Regions from separate parts of the Homo sapiens genome. Here all the other regions are linked to region 6. The links come from fine-mapping of genetic effects on gene expression. A gene starts in region 6. Each other region holds a variant in brackets. All regions are shown on one strand. Distances are from middle to middle.

Region 1 (4,069 bases), 250 kb after region 6:
CTTATTTCCTTCTCCTGCCTGATTGCCCTGGCCAGAACTTCCAACACTATGTTGAATAGAAGTGGTGAGAGAGGACATCCCTGTCTTTAGCCAGTTTTCAAAGGGAATGCTTCCAGTTTTTGCCCATTCAGTATGATATTGGCTGTGGGTTTGTCATAGACAGCTCTTATTATTTTGAGATACTTCCCATCAATACCTAATTTATTGAGAGATTTTAGCATGAAGGGTTGTTGAATTTTGTCAAAGGCGTTTTCTGCATCTATTGAGATAATCATGTGGCTTTTGTCATTGGTTCTGTTTATATGCTGGATTACGTTTATCGATTTGCATATGTTGAACCAGCCTTGCATCCCAGGGATGAAGCCCACTTGATTATGGTGGATAAGCTTTTTGATGTGCTGCTGGATTCGGTTTGCCAGTAGTTTATTGAGGATTTTTGCATCAATGTTCATCAGGGATATTGGTCTAAAATTCTCTTTTTTTGTTGTGTCTCTGCCAGGCTTTGGTATCAGGATGATGCTGGCCTCATAAAATGAGTTAGGGAGGATTCCCTCTATTTCTATTGATTGGAATAGTTTCAGAAGGAATGGTACTAGCTCCTCCTCATAGCTCTGGTAGAATTCGGCTGTGAATCCATCTGGTCCTGGACTTTTTTGGTTGGTAAGCTATTAATTATTGCCTCAATTTCAGAGCCAATCATTGATGTATTCAGACATTCAATTTCTTCCTGGTTTAGTCTTGGGAGGGTGTATGTGTCGAGGAATTTATCCATTTCTTCTAGATTTTCTAGTTTATTTGTGTAGAGGTGTTTATAGTATTCTCTGATGGTAGTTTGTATTTCTGTGGGATCTGTGGTGTTATCCCCTTTATCATTTTTTAGTGCGTCTATTTGATTCTTCTCTCTTTTCTTCTTTATTAGTCTTGCTAGTGGTCTCTCAATTTTGTTGATCTTTTCAAAAAACCAGCTCCTGGATTCACTGATTTTTTTGAAGGGTTTTTTTGTGTCTCTATTTCCTTCAGTTCTGCTCTGATCTTAGTTATTTCTTGCCTTCTGCTAGCTTTTGAATGTGTTTGCTCTTGCTTCTCTAGTTCTTTTAATTGTGATGTTAGGGTGTCAATTTTAGATCTTTCCTGCTTTCTCTTGTGGGCATTTAGTGCTATAAATTTCCCTCTACACATTGCTTTGAATGTGTCCCAGAGATTCTGATATGTTGTGTCTTTATTCTCGTTGGTTTCAAAGAACATCTTTATTTCTGCCTTCATTTCGTTATGTACCCAGTAGTCATTCAGGATCAGGTTGTTCAGTTTCCATGTAGTTGAGCGGTTTTGAGTGAGTTTCTGAATCCTGAGTTCTAGTTTGATTGCACTGTGGTCTGAGAGACAGTTTGTTATAATTTCTGTTCTTTTACATTTGCTGAGGAGTGCTTTACTTCCAACTATGTGGTCAGTTTTGGAATAGGTGTGGTGTGGTGCTGAAAAGAATGTATAGTGTGTTGATTTGGGGTGGAGAGTTCTGTAGATTTCTGTTAGGTCTGCTTGGTGCAGAGCTGAGTTCAGTTTCTGGATATCCTTGTTAACTTTCTGTCTCGTTGATCTGTCTAATGTTGACAGTGGTGTGCTAAAGTCTCCCATTATTACTGTGTGGGAGTCTAAGTTTCTTTGTAGGTCTCTAAGGACTTGGTTTATGAATCTGGGTGCTCCTGTATTGGGTGCATATATATTTAGGACAGTTAGCTCTTCTTGTTGAATTGATCCCTTTACCATTATGTAATGGCCTTGTCTCTTTTGATCTTTGTTGGTTTAAAGTCTGTTTTATCAGAGACTAGGATTGCAACCCCTGCCTTTTTTTC[G/A]TTTTCCATTTGCTTGATAGATCTTTCTCCATCCCTTTATTTTGAGCCTGTGTGTGTCGGCACATGATATGGGTTTCCTGAATACAGCACACTGATGGGTCTTGACTATTTATCCAATTTGCCAGTCTGTGTCTTTTAATTGGAGCATTTAGCCCATTTACATTTAAGGTTAATATTGTTATGTGTGAATTTGGTCCTGTCATTATGATGTTAGCTGGTTATTTTGCTCGTTAGTTGATGCAGTTTCTTCCTAGCATCGATAGTCTTTACAATTTGGCATGTTTTTGCAGTGGCTGGTACCAGTTGTTCCTTTCCATGTTTAGTGCTTCCTTCAGGAGCTCTTGTAAGGCAGGCCTGGTGGTGACAAAATCTCTCAGTATTTGCTTGTCTGTAAAGTATTTTATTTCTCCTTCACTTCTGAAGCTTAGTTTGGCTGGATACGAAATTCTGGGTTGAAAATTCTTTTCTTTAAGAATGTTGAGTATTGGCTGCCACTGTCTTCTGGCTTGTAGAGTTTCTGCCGAGAGATCCCCTGTTATTCTGATGGGCTTCCCTTTGTGGGTAACCCGACCTTTCTCTCTGGCTGCCCTTAACATTTTTTCCTTCATTTCAACTTTGGTGAATCTGACAATTATGTGTCTTGGAGTTGCTCTTCTCGAGGAGTATCTTTGTGGCATTCTCTGTATTTCCTGGATTTGAATGTTGGCCTGCCTTGCTAGATTGGGGAAGTTTTCCTGGATAATATCCTGCAGAGTGTTTTCCAACTTGGTTCCATTCTCCCCATCACTTTCAGGTACACCAGTCAGATGTAGATTTGGTCTTTTCACATAGTCCCATATTTCTTGGAGGCTTTGTTCATTTCTTTTTATTCTTTTTTCTCTAAACTTCTCTTCTCACTTCATTTCATTCATTTGGTCTTCCATCACTGATACCCTTTCTTCCAGTTGATCAAATAGGCTACCGAGGCTTGTGCATTGGTCACATAGTTCTCGTGCTGTGGTTTTCAGCTCCATCAGGTCCTTTAAGGACTTCTCTGCATTGGTTATTCTAGTTAGCCATTTGTCTAATTTTTTTCAAGGTTTTTAACTTCTTTGCCATGGGTTCGCACTTCCTCCTTTAGCTCTGAGTAGTTTGATCTTCTGAAGCCTTCTTCTCTCAACTCGTCAAAGTCATTCTCCGTCCAGCTTTGTTCTGTTGCTGGTGAGGATCTGCATTCCTTTGGAGGAGGAGAGGCGCTCTGCTTTTTAGAGTTTCCAGTTTTTCTGCTCTGTTTTTTCCCCATCTTTGTGGTCTTATCTACCTTTGGTCTTTGATGATGCAGATGTACAGATGGGGTTTTGGTGTGGATGTCCTTTCTGTTTGTTAGTTTTCCTTCTAACAGTCAGGACCCTCAGCTGCAGGTCTGTTGGAGTTTTCTGGAGGTCCACTCCAGACCCTGTTTGCCTGGGTATAAGCAGCGGAGGCTGCAGAACAGCGGATATTGGTGAACAGCAAATATTGCTGCCTGATTGTTCCTCTGGAAGTTTTGTCTCAGAGGAGTACCCAGCCATGTGAGGTGTCAGTCTGCCCCTACTGGGGGGTGCCTCCCAGTTAGGCTACTCACTTGAGGAGGCAGTCTGTCCGTTCTCAGATCTCCAGCTGCGTGCTGGGAGAACCACTACTCTCTTCAAAGCTGTCAGACAGGGACATTTAAGTCTGCAGAGGTTTCTGCTGCCTTTTGTTTGGCTATGCCCTGCCCCTAGAGGTGGAGTCTACAGAGGCAGGCAGGCCTCCTTGAGCTGTAGTGGGCTCCACCCAGTTTGAGCTTCCTGGCCGCTTTGTTTACCTACTCAAGCCTCGGCAATGGCGGGCACCCCTCCGTCAGCCTCGCTGCCGCCTTGCAGTTAGATCTCAGACTGCTATGCTAGCAATGAGCTAGGCTCCATGGGCGTAGGACCCTTCAAGCCAGGTGCGGGATATAATGTCCTGGTGTGCCGTTTGCTAAGACCTTTGGAAAAGTGCAGTATTAGGGTGGGAGTGACCCGATTTCCTAGGTGCCGTCTGTCGCCTCTTTCTTTGACTAGGAAAGGGAATTCCCTGACCCCTTGCACTTCCTGGGTGAGGCGATGCTTCACCCTGCTTCGGCTCACGCTGGGTGCGCTGCACCCACTGTCCTGCACCCACTGTCTGACACTCCCCAGTGAGATGAACACGTACCTCAGTTGGAAATGCAGAAATCA
Region 2 (4,069 bases), 26 kb before region 6:
AAGAACTGCTTGAATCCAGGACGTAGAGGTTGCAGTGAGCCCAGATTGCACCACTGCACTCCAGTCTGGGTGACAGAGTGAGACTCTGTCTTGAAAACAAACAAACAAAAAACAGAAAAAAAAAAAAAAAAAAAACCAAAGAGGTGGAAAATCCCTGAAATGTAAAAGGATTTGTTTTCCGGTCATTGAAGGCATTCATTTTTTCAATACCAGAAATATTATTTCACATTTCTCTCTGACTCATGCAGGTTTCTCATCTCAGAAATTGTATCATAGTAGTATTAACCATGGAGAGAAGTTGTTCCTTCTTTTGTCAAGTGAAAGCAAAGGTGAAACGGAGGTCCCATATAACCTTAAAACCACAAGAGTGTTCTCAGATCATGTTTGGATAGAGTATGCCTGCAGTTGAAATTCAGGAAATTGATGCCCTGTTAGAACCACCTGTCTGCCTGGGTGTCCCTTGGAAAGCCTCTGTGGTTTCCCAGAGGTCCAACCCCTCCTTTTGAAGACCCTGCTCCAGTTGATAAAGTTTGTAGTACCTACTAAGTAGGATGGGCCTTTCCGACTTGTGAGCCTTCGTACTGCTGGCTTTTTGAAGGATTTATTCATGTTTGTACAACTGTAAATTTGTTATGATAGTACAGTAAAACATGGTTATACAGAAGGAAAACACACTGTAAACTTAGACTTAAAATCAAACACATAGAGGTATTATTAATATACAACAAAACAATCAGCAATAATTGTTTTAAAAAGCACCTGGAATTTTTTTTAACATCATTTCGTACAAATAAACTTCCCTACATGTAAGGATGTTCTACTTTGTTGTTTTTAAAAAGATATATGACAGAAAATCCTGACAACAGGGTTGGAATTTGAGACCAGCATCTGAGCTTCTACCTGGTCTTCATTTGTGTATTTTAAGATCCTTGTAGCAATTCATGTGGCTTAAAGGAGCAGTGTCTTGTCCTCAATCAAGTTCTTGTCAGGAACTTGACAGGTCCCTGAAGATCTCACCATGTGGCAAGGATCACTCAAACTCCAAAGAAGTTCTAAAGCAGCTTTGGTCATAACCAGCTCGACAACTCCAATTATCCTTTTAGCCTTCTAGGACAGTCAACAGCAGAGTTTTGTCTTTCTCAAGAAATATCATAATTTTATCTTAAGCCACAGACAGTGTCATGGTGTTACCTTCTTTACTGTGAAAGCAAACTTCTCAGCCACTAGTACACGCCTAACAGCCCCTTAGTATTCTTTGAAATGTGGAAAGGGACAGCACACAACAAATACTAAAGGCCCTCATCCTGGTGGTTCTCAGTCGGTTGTGTGCCTAAGAATCATGTGGGTGTTTCTTTAAAATGTAAATTTACAGTCCCCAAATCAGATTTTGATTCAATGGGTCTAAAAAACTGCCTATTACTGGGTAAGTATTATGCAGTGTTTCTTTGTGTAACAAAAAATTACATAGAAATGAATCCTCATTAGATGATTTATACAGTAGAGGTTAAACACCATGCAATTATGATTTAGTAATAACAGTGAAATAGAAATGTTATTCCTTCCCACAGCATCAAACACTTCCA[G/T]TGATAACATTCACAGGTTTATTGTGTATGTTTCTTCATTGAAGAAACTCAGCAAATTGCACTACCATTTATTTGGATTGATTTTATTTTGATTGAGTTCTCAAATCTTTTTTTATTCTTCCAGTAGTTCATTTTACTGTGAACTAGACCACAGGTAAAAGTTTTGTCTCAGTATAAGTTCACATACATCAAACTCAGGACTCCACTTACCATATCACAACTTAGCAGTTAACTTTAAGTTCCTCAAATTGGATATGATCTGATCACTGTGTTGAACTCACAGAAGAAATGAACATTAATAATAGGCCCATTGTGCACAATGCTCTTTATGGTCGGGGTTATTATTCTATACTGAAGATTAGAAAACTGAGACTGGAAAGCTTGACAAACTCTAACAAATAGTAAGTGGGAGAGCTGGAATAGGACCCCTTCTGCTGAATGCAGACTCATGAGTTGAGAAGGTTGACAAGTACACACATACCTTGGCAAGAAGGAAATTAATTTGTTGGAGAAGGAGATTCTTGTGGCAGAGAGAGGTATTTAAAAACATTTTTCTTTACTGAAAGCTTTAACTAACTGCGGAAGTCACTGAATTACTGAGGAACTAAATATCTGATGATGCTAACAAATTAAGGCTACCGCTTTCTCATTCTGTGAAGCTATATCTACCATTTTAAGTGTCAGTTTTTCATTTCAACTAGTTGTGGCTACCCAATTAGCAACTTTACTTCAACTGGCATGCATTTTGGTACAATCAGCAATGGATCATTACTACTACATTAATAAGTTGGGAGTATTCAATTTTTTTAATGAATACAAAGACAAAGATACGTGGACAGGAAAATCAGAAGACACATGGAGGGCTGAACCTGAAGGAAAGAAAATCCTGTCAGAATTCACATGCTATCTTCTTTTTCTTTTCTTTTTTTTTTTTTTCCGAGCCTTGCTCTGTCGCCAGGCTGGAGTGCAGTGGTGCAATCTTGGTTCACTGCAACCTCCGCCTCCCGGGTTCAAGCGATTCCCCTGCCTCAGCCTCCCAAGTAGCTGGGATTACAGGCACGCACCACCATGCTCGGCTAATTGCTATTTTTTTACACAAGGTGAGGTCAGGAACCATGTGACTAAATTCTATTTATTTTCATGTCTTCCCACTCCCTAAAATAGTGATCTGTATATAGGAGAACCTCAATGAACCAACATTTTGAATTGACTTTATGATTGAGAATATATATGTCCTTCAAAATAGTTCATTTTTATCTTGACACCATTTTGATCACCAATATAACCACATACAAAAAACCCTTTTGATATCAGTAAACAAACATACATTTCCAAAAATAACCTGTTGAGAAATATTTATATGATCAAAGCACAGAAGGTGTAATGAACATCTTTTACTCATGAAGCTCAAGACCCCATCCACTGGAGAAGCATAATGGAACACAAAGAGATTTGCAGCTGGACAACAGCAATCCTAAAGTGTCACCTTTGGCAGATTGAATAATGTAATTAATAATTTCAGTTTCTGTCTAAATATTGGTCTCCAAATTTATCAGCTATCTCAGTTTAGGCTGCTGTAACAAAGTAGCGTATTTTGGGTGGCTTATAAAAAACAGAAATTTATTTCTCACAGTTCTGGAGGCTAAAAGTTCAAAATTAAGGCATCAGCATGGCTGAGACCTCTTCCAGGTTGTAGACTGATGAATTCTTGTATCCTCAGGTGGCAGAAAGAGAGCAGGATTACTCCCCGGGATCCCTTTTATATGGGCACTAATTTCATTCACGATGGCTCCACCTTCATGACCTAATTAGTCTCAAAGGCCCCATCTTCTAATATCATCACATTGGGTGCTAAATTTTATCACATAAATTTTCAGGAGACACAAACATTCAGTCCATGACATCAGCCCAAAGGGATCATGAATGCAATTCAAGCAGTGTGGAAGAACATCGATAAAATCGAAGATATTTGTAGCATCACTGTCTCTTTGTACGTACAATGATATCTGCTACTTATAGCACATTTTCAGAGACTTAAATACATTTTACAAATCCTGTTCATGTTTATAAAGATGATTAAATATTTTCAAGGATAAAAGTCATAAAATAACACAAGCTGGAAGGGGCCCAGAAAGAATTTTTTCAAATCCTTTAATTTTATGCATTCCTCATTTCAAAGGAAGACTTTAAAGACATTTGTGGAAAAATCTGAATGTGTAGTTCTTCTATATTTTTACAACTTTTCTCAGTCTTTTGCAGCTATTATATATACCCCCAATTCCACTCAATTTAATCAAGACTTTCCAAAATATTCGACTTGGTGTTCATAGGTGCAACATTCTATTCTACCCATTGATTTAATAACATTTTATTAACTTAAGTAACTACCTAAAGAATACAACTGGCAAGTCAGGTTTGGAACAAATGTAACTGCCTCCTGGCCAGCATTCATCTCAGGGGACAGAAGTTCTATCATACACCAGGAG
Region 3 (4,069 bases), 46 kb after region 6:
TCCAGTTTTATTTGATGCCCACAATGGTTCTCAGTGAACTAAGCAGGCTTTTTTTTTTTGAGGTAAAAAGCTCAGGGAAGCTAAGTCAGTTGCTTGAAAACAAATTGTTAAAAAGTGAATAGAACCCAGGTCTTGGGACTGATAAAGCTTTTCCCTGTCATGCTTAGTCACATCCATGATCTTCTATTTTCTTTGAAGCAGTTTTCCTGTTGGAGTGATTTTATTACACAGATCTTTGAAATCATGTCTTCAAATGCTTTCAGTGTATGTAACACTGTTAGTAACAATCTAATAATCACAGCAAAGAAAGCTCCCGTGAATTATCATGGTTTATTTGACTCTTCGATTTCCTAATATTTTTATCTAAATAAAGCTTTATACCTTGTTTTAGTGACATCTTCAAATAAAATGTTAACTAAAAACAAGCCTCTCTGATGGGAAATGTGATCAGAGAAGTGTCATTGTAAAACCTACTTCTTAAAGGCAAAAAAGTTTTTGATTGCAAATGTTTACTGATAGCCTTCATCAGGGCAGAATCTCTGGCCTGAATATTAAGAACTGAAGTGTAAACGGCAGCCTAGGCTATTAATGATTCTTCCTTTCTGTTGCATGGGGACTTTCTTCATTGTGGGTGTGTTTACATACACACATGCACATGCACATGCACATACACACACACGGGGCATTTTACTGGTTTTAAGTGCTTTATTATAATCCAGGATTATAGCTGCTAATGGTAGAGCTGCCCGGGGCCAGGTCTGGGCTTTGTCATTTGTGCCTCTGGATATTTTCAGATGATCCTGAAGCTGACGCAACAGGATGAAAATCCATCAGAATCTCAGACTACAGCACTAAATATGCTTTGATGCTACATCAAACGGAATGGAAGCATAGCTGACTTCGCTAAAGTTACTTCATCTCCATCTAGCAAATGAGGCACTGTTCTCAACCAAAGGAGATGGGGATCTGGTTTAGGGCAATCCCTTTATAATTTGATGTGCTGTGGTCTCCTTGGTAATGTATAATTTGGTATTGCACAGGTGATTAGTCAAGGAAGTCTGGAAAAGCTTTGGTCCCACAGCCTTGCCTCACAGCATGTAAATAATTAAAACAATATTGATGCTGAGGTTCTTCTACTGCTAGTATGAAAGTGACAAATTTTTACTGGTGTGAATTGGGAAGAAAACAATGCTATTCCATGACGTTTGTAAAATGTTTGTAAAAGCTCAAACATGACGATTCCATAAAATAAACTTGAGGTTAAATAATGGGTAGTAAATTATAGAATGTATAAGAAAAAATATAAAGGAGAAAATCAATTATCAGGAAAGCTAAAGAACTTTTCAAATCTAGTAATTTGAATATAGACACAATGCACTTTATTGCACTTTCAATTCTTATAAAGCAACAATAATATTAAGGTCCTTGACTATGTGTACAATGTTTTCACATATATAGTTTCATTTAATCATTTCAAAGTTAATCTCTGCCATCTCGCTAAATCATCAGTCTCGGCTCTTCTGAAATAGAAGGTGCCTGATCTTCCTAATAATTCTGCCTATTTTCATTTGCTTTAAACAGGCGCCCTATTTTCTTTCTAGTTGTGGCTGCGCAAAAACATTTATCTCCCAAATAAGATGTGCTGCTTACCGAGGTATCACGGGGTGGGGCTCCAGCTTGGGTCGTTGAAGCTGGGGTTTGGGAAACCACTTCAGAGATGGCAGCAGCAAGTTTAGCATCTTCAAATTTCTTTTATTGAAAAAAATTTTATTAGTAACATGTTGTATATAAAATTATGAGCACAATGCCATCACTTAACTATAACTCTTAAAGATAGCTTAATGACTGTTTATTCTCTTGACCAAATAGACTCATAAT[A/G]ACATATAATTTTAAAAGAAATTTAAATTCTTTCTTCTCTATTGTATTATTTTATACAATTTGCTATTTCTATTTCCTTCTCATATTGATTATTCTAAATACTATGCAATAATATAACTTAGAGTTCCACGGTTTGTTTACACATTTCCTGTTGTACATTTAGGTTATTCAAAGTTTTCAGCTCTTTTAAAATTGCTCTGAATAAGTTCTAGTGAGTGAGTTATGGTGCTGGCTATATTTTGCTAAACTGCCCTCTCAAATGTTGCTAGGAATTCATACTGCGAAAAGCAATGAATAAGCATGCCTGTTTTCCCATGGCCTTGCTTGCCAGAATTTGACTTTTATTATGATAATCAGTGTAAAATGATATACTACTATTGCTTGTATATTGTGGTATACGGTGTCAGGTTTCAGGGTTTTTTTTCAACGTTAAATATTCTAGAAACTTTCTGAAATAATTTCTGTTTAAAAATATTGAATATTTGCTTCATTTCAAATACTCCCTTTTGACAAAAAAACTTAGGTATAACTGTTGATGAAAAACCAGAAAAAAGTCCAGAACTCTTTGGTGACTCCAACTATGGATAGCTTATTTTGAAAAAGGAGAATTGCAAATTTTACCAAAAGATGGAGAAAAGCACATTAAAAAGATACCAACATTCAGAAATTCATTTCAGCATGTTATTATTGGAAATTATTTAAACTAATTTAGATAACTATAAGATACTTATTGTCCATTTATACCCTGTAAAGCCGTTTTAGAATGTAATATTTTAGGTAATCCAAAATGTACTAAATTAAATTCATTTTTAGTTATGAGAAATCTTTGCTTATATGACAAATGAAAAGAATAACAAGTTGTCAAATGAAAAGAATGACATTGAAACATTTGTATTGTCTCTTCTTAAACTATCTTATTGACTTATTATTTAAGCCTTTTAATACTAAGTATGAAACAACCTATGGTCTGGAAATTTGTATCGCAAAGCTATATGTGCATATGTTATTTAATTCATCTAATGCTACACAAAAGCATAAAATAATGATTTTTCACTCTCTTTAAAAATACTAAATCATTTATGTCCATTTCTCAATTTTTTCATTGATCTATGCTTTGAGTTTGCTTTCTCAACATTATTGTATTTTCCACTTATTATTACTGTATAACATATGCTAGTGTTTAGTTGGATTAATCTTACCTAAAAGTACTGAAAAATGCTTTTTAGTACTTTTTCATATTTTATACATTTATTTTCCGAATGTATCATTGAATAATTTTATTGAGTTATAAAAGTATCTTATTGCTATTTAATAAAAAATTAACACATAAAATGACTTGAATTGTCATCATTCTTTTTAAGATATTTAGTTAAACTGACTTAATGTATGGCCTTCAATTTTTTTGTGTCCTTATTTTTCTGATCATTTCTCCTTTTATAGTTTACATTAAGTCTGATCTCATATTAATTACATTTTCTCATCTGTTGTTACTAATAAACATGGCATAATGTTACTTACAAATGTATTATCTACAAGTAGTGCTATCCACAAATATATTCAAATGTTCCCTTTTAATGTTTGTCATTTTTTTCATGTGTTGTTAATGATTCTTCCATGTGATAATAAGCAGAAATGACAATAAACTTTTCATAGTTTCTGCTTTTAAGGAAAATGCCTCCAGCATGATATTGAATATTTGATTCTGAAAACTAAAGACTCTTTAACAGATTAGGGGATTGCCTACTTTTTAAAAAGTTTTTATTTATAATATGAGTATATGTAAAATTTTAAATAGATCTTTTACATGGACATGATTATTTGTTTCTATTTGATATACCACTACAATATATTGACAGTTTTCCTGCTACTGAATCAATACTTATAATGGCAAATAATTTAACTGTTTGTTATATTCTATGTATGCTGTATGTAATTTTTACATCTACACATTTAAGTAACTTTAGCTGATACCGTTATATTTGTCAGATTTTAAGATTAGCACCATAATTACTCATAGAAGCAACTATGTGACCCCATCTTTTTCATGACATATTTATGCCACATAAGAACTGAGTGTTCAACAGTTAGAGTCATCTTTAAACCTTCAGTAGAAGGACAGTTTGAAAATCATTGCAATATTTTCTTCAGTCTTTTTTTAGGTTTTGTGAATTACGCAGTTTAATATTTTTGT
Region 4 (4,069 bases), 160 kb after region 6:
ATTACCTCTATAAAAACCCTATCTCCAAATAAGGTCGTATGGGGTTAGGACTTCAACATATTCATTTTGGGGGGACACATTTCAACTCATAACACTTAGAAAAAGGAAACTGATCTAATCATAAAAAGTGATACTGGCTAGAACAGCACAAGGTGGTATAATCGAAGGTTCATATAGGTAAAAATCCTATTAAATCTAAAACGGTTTTACAAAGCAAGGAAACTTCCTTGCAACAAGGCTATTTTTACCACAGAACTGTACTAGGTGTTAATTTGAATAACAAGTCATCCTCAGTGTATGATCTTGTACAACCAATGCCTTTGAAGTCTGGATTGGATGTAATTAACAAAAACGATATACCGAAACCTAAGGACTCCGGTTGAGACTGCAGGTGTGGAAAATGGAGCTGTGGGAGAGTTGGGGTTTTTGTTTCCTCCGATCCGTGTATGTCACTAAGCAGCAACAAATCACCCAACAAGCCAGTGCCCCTAACTCCATCACAAACATGCCAGCAGTTCCCAGCAGAAAAGTCAAGCCACTTATAGAAACAAAAATAATCCAAGCCTCAAAATGATTCAAGAAGATGGTGAAATGGGAGATGGTATATTCATTACAACTTTTCATTTGGTAGTCCGCAACAGAGAGGTTGGGCATCAGTAACAGTTTCACCTTCACCTCCTATCGTTTGGCTAAGTGATTTCTAGAAGTACAAGTTACTTCAGCAAAAGAACTGGAAATTCTAGAGATTCTAAGTGATAAGCTTTAACCTACACATTATACATGCACTTGATTTATAATATTTATTTTTTATTGGATATCTAAAATTATAATAGACAAAGAAATGCTGTGTTTAAAACAAATAAGTTGAATAATAAAAATCAATCGATGATGAGAGGCAAATATTCCCTGTTTACATGTGCAGCCCCACAACACCTCCCCAGAGGCAACCACTATTTATAATTTTTTAATATTTTAATTCCAGGAACAGCCAATAGAGCAATTTATATGTGGTTATGAAGAAAATTTATATAAAGAATATTTCTGTTTTTACAGACATACTAGAATACTATCTACACCATTTTTCACATTGCCTTTTTCATTTAACAATACATCTTGCAAGACAGTCCACATCCCCTTACAGAAATCTACCTTTTAAATGACTGCATAACATCTTATGTAATTGCTTCATACTACATTTAACTGTTGCCTGGTGGTAGCCACTTAGCTGGTTTCAGTTTTTCCCTGTTATTAAACGATGCTGTAATGAACAGTTTTGCAGGTATCTTTGTGCCTGTGCATATGCAAGTATATTTGTTAGAGAAATTTATAAAAGTGGAATATCTAGTCAAAAGATGCATAATTACAACATTTTGGACAGATATTTGCCAAATTACCAACCAAAATTTTTGCACCAGTTCAACGATGTGGGATAGTACCTCCTTCTCTGCAATATTGACGGTGGTGTGTTTTATCAATTTTTTTATCTTTGTAATGTAATGCGACAAAAACATTACCTCCTTGTGGTTTTAATATATATTTGTCTTATTTTGAATCAGGTTAGAGCATCTTTTCACATGTTTATAAAGTATATTTCTTTTTCTGTGAATTCTATATTTGTGACCTTTGCCATGTTTCTATTGAATTGTTGGTTTTATTATTGGCTTACAGTTATTTTTGTCTTTATAGATTTTTAAATTATTATTTTAAAATATTATACATATTTTTAAAATTTTAATTTAGTCAAATTTATTAATCTTTTCCTTTCAAGTTTCTATGTTTTGTGTCTAGACCTTTAGAGAGGTCTTTCCACTCCAAGATTATAAGAAATACTCTCTTTTATTTTCCCTTGGTATTAGTAAAGTTTGTTATACTTTCACAGCGTTTTCCCACTAATTAATATTTTAAAATAAAAAAGGTAATTGTTTAAATTTACATTACACCTCTTGGAAAGCAACAGTCATATTATCTTATAATTTAAAATATTTATTTTTCCAAACCATTAGAATCCAAAAATTTAAAGTTAAGTATTAAAGA[C/T]GAAAGGAAAAGAGAATCTCAGTCAATTTTAATAATCTTAGAGAATCTTGCAAATGAATATTATGTTTGAAACGAATAAAATAGGAATAATTTTCACATTTAAAAATTATTTGGGCATGCACTGGACTTAGTGACTTGCTTCCAAATAATATAGAAAGGGCGAAATAATAACATTGAAGTGGAAAAACCTGAAAGACACCACCTTAACCGCGTGATGAATGTTGACAGCACCAGTGGTAAGTCATGTGGATCTCATGTGGAATGTGACAAGAAGGCCGCTTTAGCACTGTGATAATCTTCCCCAGACTCATAACTCCAGCCTACTCATGAGAAAAACATCAGATAAGCTCATATCGAGAGATATTTTACAAAATACTAGATGTACTCCAACTGTCAAGGGCATGAAAAACAAGGAAAGTCTTAAAAACTGTCACAGGCCCCAGAGGAGTCGAAGGGGACATGATGACTAAATATAGTGAGTATGTAGTATTGGATTGGGACCTCCAACAAAAAAAGGGAATTAGTGGAATAATAAATCCAAATGAAGTCTGGAGTTTTGGGTTTTATTTGTTTGTTTGTTTTTTGAGACACTCTCACTCTGTCACCCAGGCTGGAGTGCAGTGGCCCGATCTTGGCTCACCGCAACCTCTGCCTCCCAGGCTCAAGCGATTCTCCTGCCTCAGCCTCCTGAGTAGCTGGAATTACAGGCACGTGCCACTACTGCTAGGCTAATTTTTGTATTTTTAGTAGACACGGGGTTTCACCATGTTGGCCAGGCTGGTCTCAAACTCCTGACCTCAAATGGTCCACTCGCCTCACCCTCCCAAAGTGCTGAGATTACAGGCGTGAGCCACGGCGCCTGGCTTGGAGTTTCATTAATAGTAATATCCTGATGTTGGTTTCCTAATTTTGACAGATGTATCACCATAATGTAAGATGATAACATCAGGGGAAATTGAAACTGAGTGAGGATTATAGGTGGATTCTCCATACCACCTGCACAACTTTTATGTCAGTCTAAAATTACTCCAAAATAAACTGTTATAAGAAAAACAATTTTATGTTTAACAAGACTTTTCTGGGAATGGACACCGCCAAAATATTTGTAGTAAATTTTTATTTGTAATAATAATTTTTAAAGGTTAAAGATAATTTTCTAGCAGTTGCTGGCTGTAGCTGACCAACATGCCATTTGAATCCACCAAGTACCAAAACTACTTCTGCTGTGAATGCCTTATTCTTGGAGAAGCAGTAAATATAAAATGGGTAAAGAGAAATTTAAATGACAGACTTTCACTGTACAAGAAACTTAATTAAAGACAAATTTGTTGTGAAGTATTTTTTTAAATAATGGTTTTATTCAAATATAATCCCCATACCATACAATTCACCCATATGAAGTATACAATTCCATGGTTTTTAGTATATTCACAGAGATGTGAATGATCAGTCAATTTTAGAACCTTTTCATCACCTCAAAAAGAAACCCTCAATTTTTTTTTTTTTGTTTTTGAGACGGAACCTCGTTCTGTCCCCCAGGCTGGAGTGCAGTGGCATGATCTTGGCTCACTGCAACCTCTGCGGCCTGGGTTCAAGCAATTCTGCCTCAGTCTCCTGAGTAGATGGGATTACAGGTGCACACCAACATGCCCAGCTAATTTTTTGTGTTATTATTATTATTTTTTTGAGATGAAGTCTCGCTCAGTTGCCAGGCTGGAGTACAGTGTCATGATCTGGGCTCACTGCAATCTCGGCCTCCAAGGTTCAAGCGATTCTCCTGCTTCAGCCTCCCAAGTAGCTGGGATTACAGGTGCGCGCCACCACACCCAGCTAATTTTTATATTTTTAGTAGAGACAAGGTTTCACCATGTTGGCCAGGTTGGTCTCCATCTCCTGACCTCGTGATCCACCCACCTCGGCCTCCCAAAGTGCTGGGATTACAGGGGTGAGCCATTGCGCCTGGCCCATTTTTTTGTATTTTTAATGGAGTTGGGGTTTTACCATGTTGGTCAGACTGGTCTCGAACTCCTGACCT
Region 5 (4,069 bases), 32 kb after region 6:
CCCTGGCTTCTTGAAACCCTGCCTATTGTTCTTGCAGTAAATTCCAAATCCCTCCTTCCCATGTGTCCATGACCTTGAAGACCTGGCTTCTGAGGACCTCTCTGGTGCCAATTCCCACAGGCGCTCCTGGCTTACTCTCTCATAACACTGTAGCCACTCAGCCTCCTTCTGCTCCTGGGCTACCACATGTTTCTCCTGTCTTTAAGCCTCTGCACTTTTTATTCTCTCTGCCTGGCTTGCCCATTCCCCAACTTTTCACTAGAAAGGGGCATTTTATCTTTGAGAGGTCTCGGCTCAGATCACCTTCCCCAAAACCATGCTGTTCAATGCAGGCCACATCTCCTCAGTTACTAGCATACCCCTGGCATATTTTCTTCATAGCAGTTTATTTACAGTAATCATATTTACTGCTTGTATACCCCAAAAGACTGTAAGCTCCATGAGGGGAGGATGCTTGCCTGATTCACTGCTGCATCCTCAGTGTCTAGCACAGTAATTACAGCAGAGGGATGAATAAATATCAGAGTAAATATTGGTGAACAAATGGATGAGGTTAAGTCCCTGATACATGCTGGGTTTGGGGCTTTGCACTTTACCTGCATTATATAACTACATCCTTCACCACTGCTCTTCATTTTACAAATGAGGAGACTGGCTTCCATAGAAGTTAAATCATTTGCTCAAATCAAGTTAGTAGGATAAACCTGTTTTCCTATCCCTGTATTGTGCTACTTATTGCACAGAAATTGTTCTTAAAGAGCCAAGTCTGAATCAAATATTCAGTGGAGATGTTGCATTTCCAAGGCAGGTGAAGACAGAAGAGATGATTTTGGGTCAGGACAAGGGTAAGAGTAATGGTTAACAGCTGGCTTCGCTGTTGTAGAAGGTCTGTTTTTAGTGGAGCTATCATGATGAGCTCCTTTAGGATTAATGATTTGAACAATTAGTAAAATTATTGATGTGCTTTGTTGAGTAGTGCTCAGTGATTTTTAATCGACTGTGAATTAATCTTGCATTCTGAGAGCGTATGAAACAGTAGGTTGAGCTACAACTTAAAGTAGAGAGTGAAGTGTTTTCCAGGTTGCTACAGCAGGAGGCCATGCCTTCTGCTCATTGTAAAGTTGCACTGTATTGACATATAATTTTAAAACAACTCTGCATCATTTAAAATTGAATTCTGATCTTTCTAAAACCCATTCCTACTCCCCTCTTTATTCCCAAACTAATAATATGGTATTATGACATGGATTTCTAAGGAACTGGCTGTCTGGAATCTATGCTGAATAAATAATACATCATGGTCTACATTCGCTTCCTGAATACCAAATCAAAAATTGATGGATTAATGCTGTGAAAATTTATGGGAAAAGGATAATAACCCTTTAAGGTGAAACAGAATCGCACAATGGTCAATCTTGTGGCAAAGCCAGCCTATCTGTCATGTGAGCTCAAGGGGTGAATTAAGATACCCACAAATGAAACAAGAACAAACATATTTTTCAGGAGGTAGCCAAGAGTTTCTTATCTCTTTAAAATCATGGGGAACTTTATGTGGATTTTATCTTGAGACAACAATACATGAATTGTAGATTAGGATAAAAAAAATGGCAAGGTTTGGGTCTTACCGCCATAACTTGCTAAGAATCCCATTCCCCACAGTGTTTCTATAATAACATACAAGGCCAGGCCCATGGAGAAAGACAGCACTTACGTGGTGGAAACTGTTTTGCTTGGCAAAGAAAAGACTCTGCACATTCTGCTTTTTAGATATCATGTTTTTAAAAAACGAAGTTTGCATCTGTGAGAACAGAACAGAATAACACATTAAATAGACACAATTAAACCTTAATTATAAAATGGTAAACAGTGAAGTCTTTTAAAGTCTGGCAACTGAGAATAAACAAAAGAACTGCAGACAAAAAACAGAACTTGACATCATGAGGCATGAGCTCATTTCATACAGCTTATGTGTACATAATCCTATTCAGACAGCTGGGACTGCCTTCTATATAGAATTTTGACAAATGCTGGAATTTTGGCTTCAGTTTTAACTAAAGTTACATCTGATTAATGTGATAAAATTAATTTTTTAAAACCCACTTTTTCCTCACAAGGTAAAAGGATTCTTCAGCTCTTTGAAAGAAAATGGTTCTCAGCTCCGTTGTGTCCAACAGACAATTGAAACCATTGAAGAAAACATCGGTTGGATGGATAAGAATTTTGATAAAATCAGAGTGTGGCTGCAAAGTGAAAAGCTTGAACGTATGTAAAAATTCCTCCCTTGCC[A/C]GGTTCCTGTTATCTCTAATCACCAACATTTTGTTGAGTGTATTTTCAAACTAGAGATGGCTGTTTTGGCTCCAACTGGAGATACTTTTTTCCCTTCAACTCATTTTTTGACTATCCCTGTGAAAAGAATAGCTGTTAGTTTTTCATGAATGGGCTATCGCTACCATGTGTTTTGTTCATCACAGGTGTTGCCCTGCAACGTAAACCCAAGTGTTGGGTTCCCTGCCACAGAAGAATAAAGTACCTTATTCTTCTCATTTTATAGTTTATGCTTAAGCACCCGTGTCCAAAACCCTGTACCCCATGTTTATCATTCATAAACTGTTTCATCAGTCTCCTCGAAAGACTCTGAATAGTCGACTACTGAACAATGAACACCTGGATCTGAGACTAAGCCGGACGATGACTGGGTTAAAGCTCTCCCGGCTCACCCCTCCAGACCCGCTGCCCATCCCTCTTCCTTGCTCCATGCCCAGGGGCTGACTTGTAAAGGCCAAGTCATCAAGCTTTCTTGCCCTTTGGATGTTGGTCAGTGGGGAGCCGGAGAGCTGGAGCTGGGGTCGGAGGAGGTAGTAGGTGGAGGTGTTCTTCCCTGATTCCCTTGCGGGATGCCTCGGGCTGGCCTCCCCTGAGGGTCTTAGCTCCGAGAGGGGACCCTCTTTTCCACACAGCCTTCTCCACCTCTGGATTTTGGTAACTGCTCCCTCCTCATCCCTTCAGGATTAGTGGCCTCAGTGGGAGTCTGGCTTTTACTAGTCCTGGCGGACTTGTGGTTTCTACATAATGTGCTCGCACTTTTGCAAAAAATCTTTTTATAGAACCCTCCTCAGATAATTCTGAGTGAGTGTCATCTATTTCCCTGACTGGTACAGTATCTCTTCTGAAAAAGCAGAGTGCATTCAAGTCTGTAGGAAAACCCTTTTCTTAGGGAGGTGATTTTTTTTCTCTCTCTGCTTCTTATTTGGCCTACTTTACAATTTCTAACTAACTAGTTATTGGCATTTACTGACAGTAAATTATTGCAGTCACCAATAAATGATAGTACATTGTGAAACAAAATATTTGCTCATATTAGCAAATAGGACATTCTTTGGCTTTGAAGTCTTTCTTTCTTTTGTGAAGACTTCACACACGGTTGCTTCAGCACACAGTTGCTGCTCAGGTTTTATGTATAGATGATAATAATAGAAAGCACAGTTTACTAACATGGTAAACCAACGGAGTTCAAGTCAAGTCAGTTAATACCCTAAGAATTAGATTTTATTTCTTATTCTGAAAACTTGCTACACAGGGACTTATCTAACCCATAGTGTGCTCTGTTGCTGACTTGATTCAAGTTGCAGCGTGTTTTGCGCTGACTCTAAGGTGCGGAAATCCTCACACCTGGCAAAGGAGAATTCAAACTGAACTTTTTGAATATAAGGCAAAAACTTCAAGATAAGGGAATATGATTGATGATTGGTACGAAAAATGTCAAAATGTGTTCCCCTAATACACGACAAAATAGAGTGACTTCTGGACATAAATCTGCCATTTATTAAACCATTCACTACAACAAATAAATAGGTATAAAAGTGGAATTGGAATTTTTATACTTATTTGTTGTAGTGAATGGTTTAATAAAAATAGAAATCACTGGTAATTTCCACCCCAAACTAAACTATTTCCCTTCTTTTAAAAAAATACACAACCAAGATTTTAATGTAAAATATTTTGCTTTAATTGTATTTTATGCCTTGATTAATGAAACATGGAAATATTGATTTTCAGTTTTGGTCACCTG
Region 6 (4,069 bases):
CTGCCAAATCCTCTGACTTATCGCTCTTTGTAGTGCACTTCAACTCTAAAGACGAAATCACGGCCAGGGCGACAGGCTAAAGTCTGAGTCAGGGTGAGCTTTTGGGGAAACGGCGTGGAGCGGGTGGTGGTGTCAGCTCTCTCCTCGCCTACACTTCAGCTCCTTTCTGCCCACATCCATTCAGGGCATTGCCCTGTTTGTCTCCTCAGCTGTCTTCTGTATTAACCTCCAGCCTGTTGGGTGCATTCAGTTCTGCCAGCTGGACTTTCAATATGTATTTAAAAAGACACATAAACAAAAAACAAAAACAAAAACAAAAAAACTTTACTAGAAGCCAAAGGAAAACCATCATATTCAAAAATATAAATATAAAAGCAAAGAAATGCATACATTTACTGGACAAAGAGGTCTCATCTTGAGTAAACTGGGAGCACTCCGAGATGTCTGGAGGTCTTGGAGGCTACACGCTATCCATTGATACCTCCTGTCAAATTCTGAACATGCAGAAATTACCAGATCTCAAAGTCCTCATTTCTTGTTGAATTTTAGTGAAAAAAACTTCCCTGGATCCCACCGTAGTTGAGTCTTGGAACAGGGTGTTAATCTTTATATTATAAAATGTCCTTGACTAGAGATAATAGGCAGTATGAAACATTATATTTTTAAAAAGGAAACATAATATTGAAAAAAAAAGAGAAATACTGTTGCAGTGACTTGGAATCCCCAGTTCTCAAAGGGAAGAAGGCCAATAAAGAAGTGGGAGAAGAAAGTCTGAGAACCGCATGAAAAGGGTCCTGTTCCCACTAGGACCATGGTCCACTCACCAAATTATCAGAGACGTTTGAACCAGAGCAACTCCATCTTGAATAGGAGCTGGGTAAAATAAGGCTGAGACCTACTGGGCTACACTCCCAGGAGGTTAGACATTCTAAGTCACAGAATGAGATAGAAGGTAGGCACAAGACACAGGTCATAAAGACCTTGCTGATAAAACAGGTTGCAGTAAGGAAGCTGGCCAAAACCCACCAAAACCAGGATGGCAATGAGAGTGTCCTCTGGTCGTCACTGCTACGGTCTCACCAGCTCCATGACAGTTTACAAATGCCACTGCAACGTCGGGAAGCTACCCTATATGGTCTAAAAAGGGGAGGCATGAATAATTTCCCCCGCTTAGCATATAATCAAGAAATAACCCTAAAAATGGACAACCAACAGCCCTTGGGGGTGCTCTGCCTATGAGTAGCCATTCTTTTATTCCTTTAGTTTCTTAATTACTTGCTTTCACTTTACTCCATGGACTCCCCTCAAATTCTTTCTTGCGCAAAATCCAAGAACCCTCTCTTGGGGTCTGGATCGGGACCCATTTTCGGTAATAAACTTGTAGCATTTGGTGTTTTAATGTTTGTGTTTTCTTGACTTGTTACCTCATTTAGCCTCAACTGTTTAAAGATGGTCTTTTTGGCCATTTTATTCAGCTTTAATTGTTCTAAGGGGAGTGAAGAAATGGTCATTTACTTTGAAAAATCAGAGGGAACGTGTTGATGCGGGAAGCAGCTAATCCTTGGGGTACAGTGGCCCTTGGTAGTGCAGGAAAGTCCTGGGGGCCACCTCTAACCCACCTTCCTCCTCTACAGCATCTCCCACTGTAGTCATTCTCTACCGAAGCCCCAGAAGGTGCGGCACTTTGCCACGACAGAGTACTGGGTTCATGTTTCTTTCCGAGGCGGGCCAAGAGCTCTCAGCCCACTGGCAGTGGCGAGATGACGGACACCCAGCGAGTCCAATGGGCGTCGAACGCGTCTAGGCTTGGTGGACTTGTCAGCGCCTGCCTGGCTTCGGTCCCCAACTTGAGCACCGGCCCTTTCCTGCATGCCCCTAACCCTCGCAACGCTAAACAGTGAAAAAAAAAAAAAGACAAAAACAAAAAGCATCTCAACACACACACACACACACACACACACACACACACACACACACACACACACACACACACACACACACACACACACGGATCCGCGTTCAGAAAGGCGTGCACTTCCTACGCCTGATCCCCCGCATCGCAACCTCGCAGCTTCCCCGGCGTGCAGCGCTCATTTACCAATTCCCTTCCTGGGAGTTGCGGCTTCCCTCGCTCGGCCCCACTCCCGTTTACCCTTTCCCCAGCTCCCGCCTTAGCCAGGGGCTTCCCCGCCTGCCGCTAGGGCTCGGGCCGAAGCGCCGCTCAGCGCCAGCCTGCCGCTCCCCGGGCTCCACTTTCACTTTCGGTCCTGGGGGAGCTAGGCCGGCGGCAGTGGTGGTGGCGGCGGCGCAAGGGTGAGGGCGGCCCCAGAACCCCAGGTACAGCGCGCTCGAGCCGCGGGTAGGGGACTGCGGGCCGGGAGGAGAGCGCGGCACCCGCCCCTTCCCTGCGCCCGTCAAGTGGGGGGCTGAGGGCCTGGGGCACGGGAGGAGGGAGACGGGGCACGGGAGGAGGGAGACGGGGCGCGGGAGGAAGGCGACGGGGCGCGGGAGGAAGGCGACGGGGCGCGAGACAGGGCGCGGGAAGGGCGGGGGGAGTCGCTGGCTAGGCCCGAGTCCGCGGGGTGCCCGGCGGGTTGGCGGCGGGCCCACCCCTGCCGGTCCCTGTCCCTGTCCCTCCGGGCGCGTGGCCGGTGCGCCTGCTTCACGGGTCTCCCCGCTGTTCGGCCGGCGGGAGCCTCCCTCAGCGCTCCGCCTGGCGCCTGGATGCCTGCCAGTCCTGCAGGCCACCGACGCCCGCGCGAGGCCAAAAGGCGGGGTGGGGCGGGCAGCTGGCTCGGGCTGAGGAGGGCACCTGCCCATAGCTGCTAGAGAAACCCAGAGGCTTTGGGTTAAAGACTCTGGTGGGGTGGGATGCGCGGGCCGTGTGTGTTCTTAAGGTCACTTCCCTCCCTGCTTCTCCTGTTCTTCTGGTCAGCAATTCTCTCTCTCCCCTTCGCTCTGGCTCTGGCTGGGTTTTATTCAGATAAAGCACCTCTGTTGACGCAAATTAAAAGTTTCCTATCTGGGTGCCTCACTGGCCAGGTGGTCCTACAAAGTTAATTCCATGAGGGGAAGGGGGAGAGCACACACTTCCTCACGCTTTTGGATTTCTTTGTGTAGGCTAGGTTCAGAAAGAAATTATCTGTTTCCTATTAAACACCCAGAGGATTCGCTCTGAACTCAGGACGTGGTCAACAATTAACAAAACAACAAAACAAAACAAAACAAAACAAAAAACTTGAAAATTGGGCACAGTTGTCTCTTGCCTGAGGATTTTTAATTAGTATAAGTAGCACATTTTCAGGTGCGGCCTGAATAGAAACATTCTAGTACTTTTTTTTTTTTCAAATTAATCCAGCATTTTTATTATTTACCAACAGTGCTTGTTAATTTCATTGTTCAGGAAATTCTGGAAGAACCTCAATTACTTCTTGATGATCTATTTCATATACTATAGTGCCCCAATAAAAGGAAGGGAGGCAGAGGTTGCAGTGAGCCAAGATCGCACCACTGCACTCCAGCCTGGGAGACAGAGCGAGACTCCGTCTCAAAAAAAAAAAAAAAAAAAAAAAAGAGGGATCTTGGTGAAGCTGAAAAAGCAGGGAGTTTATACTCACACAGATGTGGATTGCATTCCAACAAGTTGTGTGAACTTAGCAAAGTTACATGAATGGTTCTTTGCTTCAGTTACCCCACCTTGAATGAGAATAATAGGCTATTAGAGAGAGTGAGCATGTGTAAAGTGCCTGGCACTTTGGAGGAGCTTAGTAAATATTAGTTCTTTTTCCTCCTTGGCTTCTATTCCTTTAAGTGTTAGTGGAGTGTAACTTCAAAGAGAATTGTACTTCTCTTGGGAAGAGCTGCTTATATTGAGTAGACTACTGTTTTTGAGAGCTTTCTTTTTTTTTAACTGCCTCCCTTTCAGAAAATTGTTAGTAAAACCAGACCCTAGGAGACCAGCCAGAACCATGAAATGCCATGTTTCAAACTGGAACACTTACTATTGGAAGCAAAGCCAAACAAGAGCTAATTTTTCAGGGGAAGAGCCAAACACACGAACATGATCACA
Region 7 (4,069 bases), 110 kb before region 6:
CTAAAGGGTAAATAAATTCAAGATTTATTGTGAAAAGAAGGTGCAAAGACTATAATGCTTTAAAAAAAAAAAAAAGATAGGCTGGTGGCTCACGCCTGTAATCCCAGCACTTCGGGAGGCCAAAGTGGGTGGATCACGAGGTCAGGAGATCGAGACCACCCTGGCTAACACAGTGAAACCCCATCTCTACTAAAAAAAAATACAAAAAAATTAGGTGGGCATGGTGGCAGCCTCCTGTAGTCCCAGCTACTCGGGAGGCTGAGGCAGGAGAATGGCGTGAACCTGGGAGGCGGAGCTTGCAGTGAGCCGAGATCGCAAGCCACTGCACTCCAGCCTGGGCAACAGAGCAAGACTCCGCCTCAAAAAAAAAAAAAAAAAAAAAAAGATAACTAGAATTACCAACAATAGTTTTGTTAAAAAGATCATTAAGTACGCTTCCAAACTTTAATATAATCACTCTTGCATCGTAATACAATATGAAAGAAATAATACAAAAGGGCTCACCTCTCAAGTCTATTTTCATTTTGAATGCTATGAATACACGTATTTTAAGTATTTTAAGAGTCAGGGGCTTTTTTTTGCTGTTGTTTTTTGTTTTTGTTTTTGTTTTTTGTTTTTTTGAGATGGAGTCTCACTCTGTCACCCAGGCTGGAGTGCAGTGGTGTGATCTCAGCTCACTGCAACCTCCGCCTCCTGGGTCCAAGTGATTCTTCTGCCTCAGCCTCCCAAGTAGCTGGGACTACAGGTGCGTGCCACCACATTCTGCTAATTTTTGTATTTTTATTAGAGACAGGGTTTCACCATATTGGCCAGGCTGGTCTCGAACTCCTGACCCCATGATCTACCTGCCTTGGCCTCCCAAAGTGGTGGGATTACAGGTGTGAGCCACTGTGCCTGGCCAAGTGTCAGGTTTTAATCCTGTCCCTTCCATTTACTTGCTATATGGCATTGGACAAACAACTTTTTTAAAAACTAAAATGAGAACTTCAAATCAGATTATATCTAAGTTTACTTTCAATTCCACAATTTGAACATTTATTTTGAAATTGTTAAAAACAGAAAGTCACAAACCTCTTGCAACTTATCCTTGGAAGAAAAGTGAGCTGTTGTGCCAGAGATGATCATCCTTATGTCATATGAGCCCAAGTCAAATCTGAAAATAAAAAGAAACACCATAGAAAGTCATAGAAATACTGACCTTATGTTTATTATATCATGTATTATATTTTTAATGTATATTAATAACTATGTGATAAGCTTGTGTATTACAATAGATACGGTGAATTACCATAATAACATTCATCCAGTACAATTCTAAAGCTGTGAAACTTATCAAATTTTACTATAAAATGAAAATGTAGATACAGCTTCTTTGGGAAATATGGTTAGTTATTCAGCAATGTTTATGTTTAATTTTATGTTTCTGTTTAAAGCAGTGTTCCCTACTTTTTTTGTTACTACATACTCCAGTCAGTAAAGATTTTTTGAGCAAGAACTTCCCAATATACATATTTTTATTTATAAATTATATGGGCTGGGCGC[G/A]GTGGCTCACACCTGTAATCCCAGAACTTTGGGAGGCCGAGGTGGGTGGATCACCTGAGGTCAGGAGTTTGAGACCTGCCTGACCAGCATGGAGAAACCCTATCTGTACTAAAATACAAAAAAATTAGCTGGGCATGGTGGTGCATGCCTGTAATCCCAGCTACTCAGGAGGCTGAGGCAGGAGAGTCACTTGAACCCGGGAGGTGGAGGTTGCAGTGAGCCAACATGGCGCCATTGCACTCCAGCCTGGGCAACGAGAATGAAACTCCGTCTCAAAAAAAATAAATTAATTAAAAAAAATTATATGCATATGTTAAGGTATGGTAAAAAAATTAAAAGCATGAAATAAATAATGTATTTATTTAACTTTTTATACTATATATCATTTATGTTTATAAATTTATAACAATATAAAATTTAAAATTAGATAAGAAATAATAGACACTCTAATGTATTGCACTTCTTGCACACTTCCTCATCCCATTTTGGATACCACTGTGTTTAAACATTGTGTTTAGTGGGGCAATGTTACTTGGTTGAACTCTCATTCACGGCCACAGAATGCATCCTTCAACCCAATGTTTTATATATGGAAAACTTGTACTACAGGTCAAAGTGATTCATGTTGATAAAGCAGAGCACAGTTACAGCTCAGAAAAAAATATGGTTCCAAGTCTAGGCTCTGCACATGGTTGGGCAGGGGCATCATTTCCTGTTTAAAATGAAATCCACAGCATTGTAGATTAAGGCTGATCATTTCAGGAGGAAAATGACAATCATGAAAACAGACAAATCAATGGCTCAAGTAGAGTTTTAAAGGAAACATACACAAACATACATATTAAAGCAGTTTCTATTTGGTCTCATGTGGACGTCAACTCCTTGAGCATTTGGGAGAGGAGTGGAAATGTGCTTTTTGCTTACGCAAAGCTGTGTGAGGACTCTAAACCTTCCACGGCTATGAAATGAAAGAGAAGGAACTAGGAATTAATGATATCAGGGATGCTAACTGACCCTGACATAAACAAAGCAAATCATACCTCTCTGATTCAAGATATTTTCATATAAGTCATAAATGACATTTTAGATTTGGATGAGGAATGGCTGAATGCCTTATAGGGTTTTGTGATTGTGTGTGTGTGTGTGTGTGAGAGAGAGAGAGAGAGAGACAGAAAGCAATGCTGTCTTATACATTCCATTCCAACAAAATCTAATCATTATTGGTTATTTCTGAGGGATATTTTAGATCCAGGAACATATTGAAATGAGCTCCAGTTCTCCCCAAAGTTGAAACCCCAGAAAAGACTCAGAACCAAAACAATTTGGAGGGAGGGCTCCCCAAACACTCCTGACTAGGTTTCTTTCACCTGAACCAAGGTCTCCACTGTGCCACCTCCACAGGGGCTCTAGGGGTGAGGAGTAGCTCTTACCAAAATTCCTGAGATTTTCCCCCAGTACAAAACTGCATTAACAAATGAGGCCACATATGTGTGATGCACTATACAAGGCATCTTGGGATTCTTCTGGGCTGAGGAGAGAGCCAAGAAGGGATGGTGGGAGGGGGCTGATGACTGCATTTAATTCAACTCGGACTTGATGCCAGTGGTTTCTTGCCTGGACTGAATGAGAGAAGGCTGTTTCCCATTCCCTTATTCTCATGTCTCTCCCTTACTCCTGGACAGGATAATTTGGGCTAGGGAGTTTCAAAGTTGACTCCACTGAACTATTTGGATACAAATGGTATTATTTATATGCTTTGAGAAACATTTGATTACACTTGGTTTGAGGCAACTGAGACATCTGCATGGAAGAACAAACATTGGATGAAAATGAATACCAACTTTTTCAGAAGATGGGTCCAATTTTCTCTTACAAAATCCCATGCTAGTTGCTGCCCCTTTGGACGTCTGGCAATCGCATGAAGGAGAGCTGCCAAGTTCTGTGTCTTGATAACCTTTCCTTCCATTCCTAGTTCAATTAACCTGAAGAAAGAAAAATAATTTGTTTCTAAATAGTAGGTATTATGTACATGGACATTAACTCAAGCCACCAATATATTAAAAGAATAGAACAGAAAGAGGCATGATAAAAGTATAATTACCAATTTTTTAATGTTTCAATTAAACTTTTACTTTTTTAGAAATAATTTTTATTTTGTTCCTATCAAAAACATTTACTTATTATTTCAAATAAGTTTGATTAGCATCATTTACACATCTTATATGCAAGAATGTATTTTTACAACAATAATTTTTCTTCAAGTTTCTGAAGATAAAACATAACCGCTTGTCTAGTCTCAATCATATGATTAATAACTAGGGAATACCTGTTTTCACTATTTGCATTTTGTCAATATATTCTTTTCTGAAAGTAAAGTTAAAGCCATACACATTCTGATTCAATTATCTTATGCCTTTAAAACTGGTGGCTGAAGTTTTAGTGACTTCACTGAATTTGTGTCAGTTTACTTATAACAATTTAGTTAAATTATTGAACTTACTTCAGTAACTTTTCCTGATGCTTGCTC

What was found. PIP is the estimated chance that this variant, and not a neighbour inherited with it, causes the effect.
Region 1: its variant is fine-mapped to the expression of ERAP1 in whole blood (INTERVAL, PIP above 0.99).
Region 2: its variant is fine-mapped to the expression of ERAP1 in fibroblasts (GTEx, PIP above 0.99).
Region 3: its variant is fine-mapped to the expression of ERAP1 in whole blood (TOPMed, PIP above 0.99).
Region 4: its variant is fine-mapped to the expression of ERAP1 in whole blood (INTERVAL, PIP above 0.99).
Region 5: its variant is fine-mapped to the expression of ERAP1 in whole blood (INTERVAL, PIP above 0.99). The same link has a PIP of 0.9 or more in T cells, esophagus mucosa, iPS cells, lymphoblastoid cells, monocytes and pancreas.
Region 7: its variant is fine-mapped to the expression of ERAP1 in fibroblasts (GTEx, PIP above 0.99). The same link has a PIP of 0.9 or more in caudate, esophagus mucosa, subcutaneous fat, visceral fat and whole blood.

Annotation. Positions count from the first base shown.
Region 1 is chr5:96,555,316-96,559,384 of GRCh38, reverse strand. All of the region lies in intron 4 of LOC101929710 (a long non-coding RNA gene), which reads right to left. It also overlaps a transcript of CAST not described here. Among named protein-coding and RNA genes, the nearest start is that of CAST, 110 kb to the left of the region's middle. The variant G/A (reference allele first, on the strand shown) is at 1,851.
Region 2 is chr5:96,832,243-96,836,311 of GRCh38, reverse strand. It overlaps a transcript of ERAP1 not described here. Among named protein-coding and RNA genes, the nearest start is that of ERAP1, 26 kb to the right of the region's middle. RefSeq lists a silencer at 284-333. The variant G/T (reference allele first, on the strand shown) is at 1,584.
Region 3 is chr5:96,759,954-96,764,022 of GRCh38, reverse strand. CAST (calpastatin) reads right to left here. Exons shown (of 32, transcript NM_001750.7): 25 at 1,651-1,749. It also overlaps a transcript of ERAP1 not described here. Among named protein-coding and RNA genes, the nearest start is that of ERAP1, 46 kb to the left of the region's middle. The variant A/G (reference allele first, on the strand shown) is at 1,879.
Region 4 is chr5:96,643,523-96,647,591 of GRCh38, reverse strand. It overlaps a transcript of CAST not described here. Among named protein-coding and RNA genes, the nearest start is that of CAST, 17 kb to the left of the region's middle. The variant C/T (reference allele first, on the strand shown) is at 2,035.
Region 5 is chr5:96,774,597-96,778,665 of GRCh38, reverse strand. It overlaps CAST (calpastatin), which reads right to left. Exons shown (of 32, transcript NM_001750.7): 32 at 3,983-4,069. ERAP1 (endoplasmic reticulum aminopeptidase 1) reads left to right here. Exons shown (of 19, transcript NM_001040458.3): 19 at 2,115-4,069. The coding sequence ends at 2,270. Among named protein-coding and RNA genes, the nearest start is that of ERAP1, 31 kb to the left of the region's middle. The variant A/C (reference allele first, on the strand shown) is at 2,287.
Region 6 is chr5:96,806,128-96,810,196 of GRCh38, reverse strand. It overlaps ERAP1 (endoplasmic reticulum aminopeptidase 1), which reads left to right and starts at 2,252. Exons shown (of 19, transcript NM_001040458.3): 1 at 2,252-2,337. LOC124901033 (a long non-coding RNA gene) reads right to left here and starts at 2,739. Exons shown (of 3, transcript XR_007058879.1): 1 at 1,620-2,739. RefSeq lists enhancers at 1,572-1,641, 1,798-2,297, 2,298-2,799 and a silencer at 2,372-2,831.
Region 7 is chr5:96,912,772-96,916,840 of GRCh38, reverse strand. It overlaps ERAP2 (endoplasmic reticulum aminopeptidase 2), which reads right to left. Exons shown (of 19, transcript NM_022350.5): 16 at 4,043-4,069; 17 at 3,384-3,524; 18 at 1,072-1,153. It also overlaps a transcript of ERAP1 not described here. Among named protein-coding and RNA genes, the nearest start is that of LNPEP, 21 kb to the left of the region's middle. The variant G/A (reference allele first, on the strand shown) is at 1,543.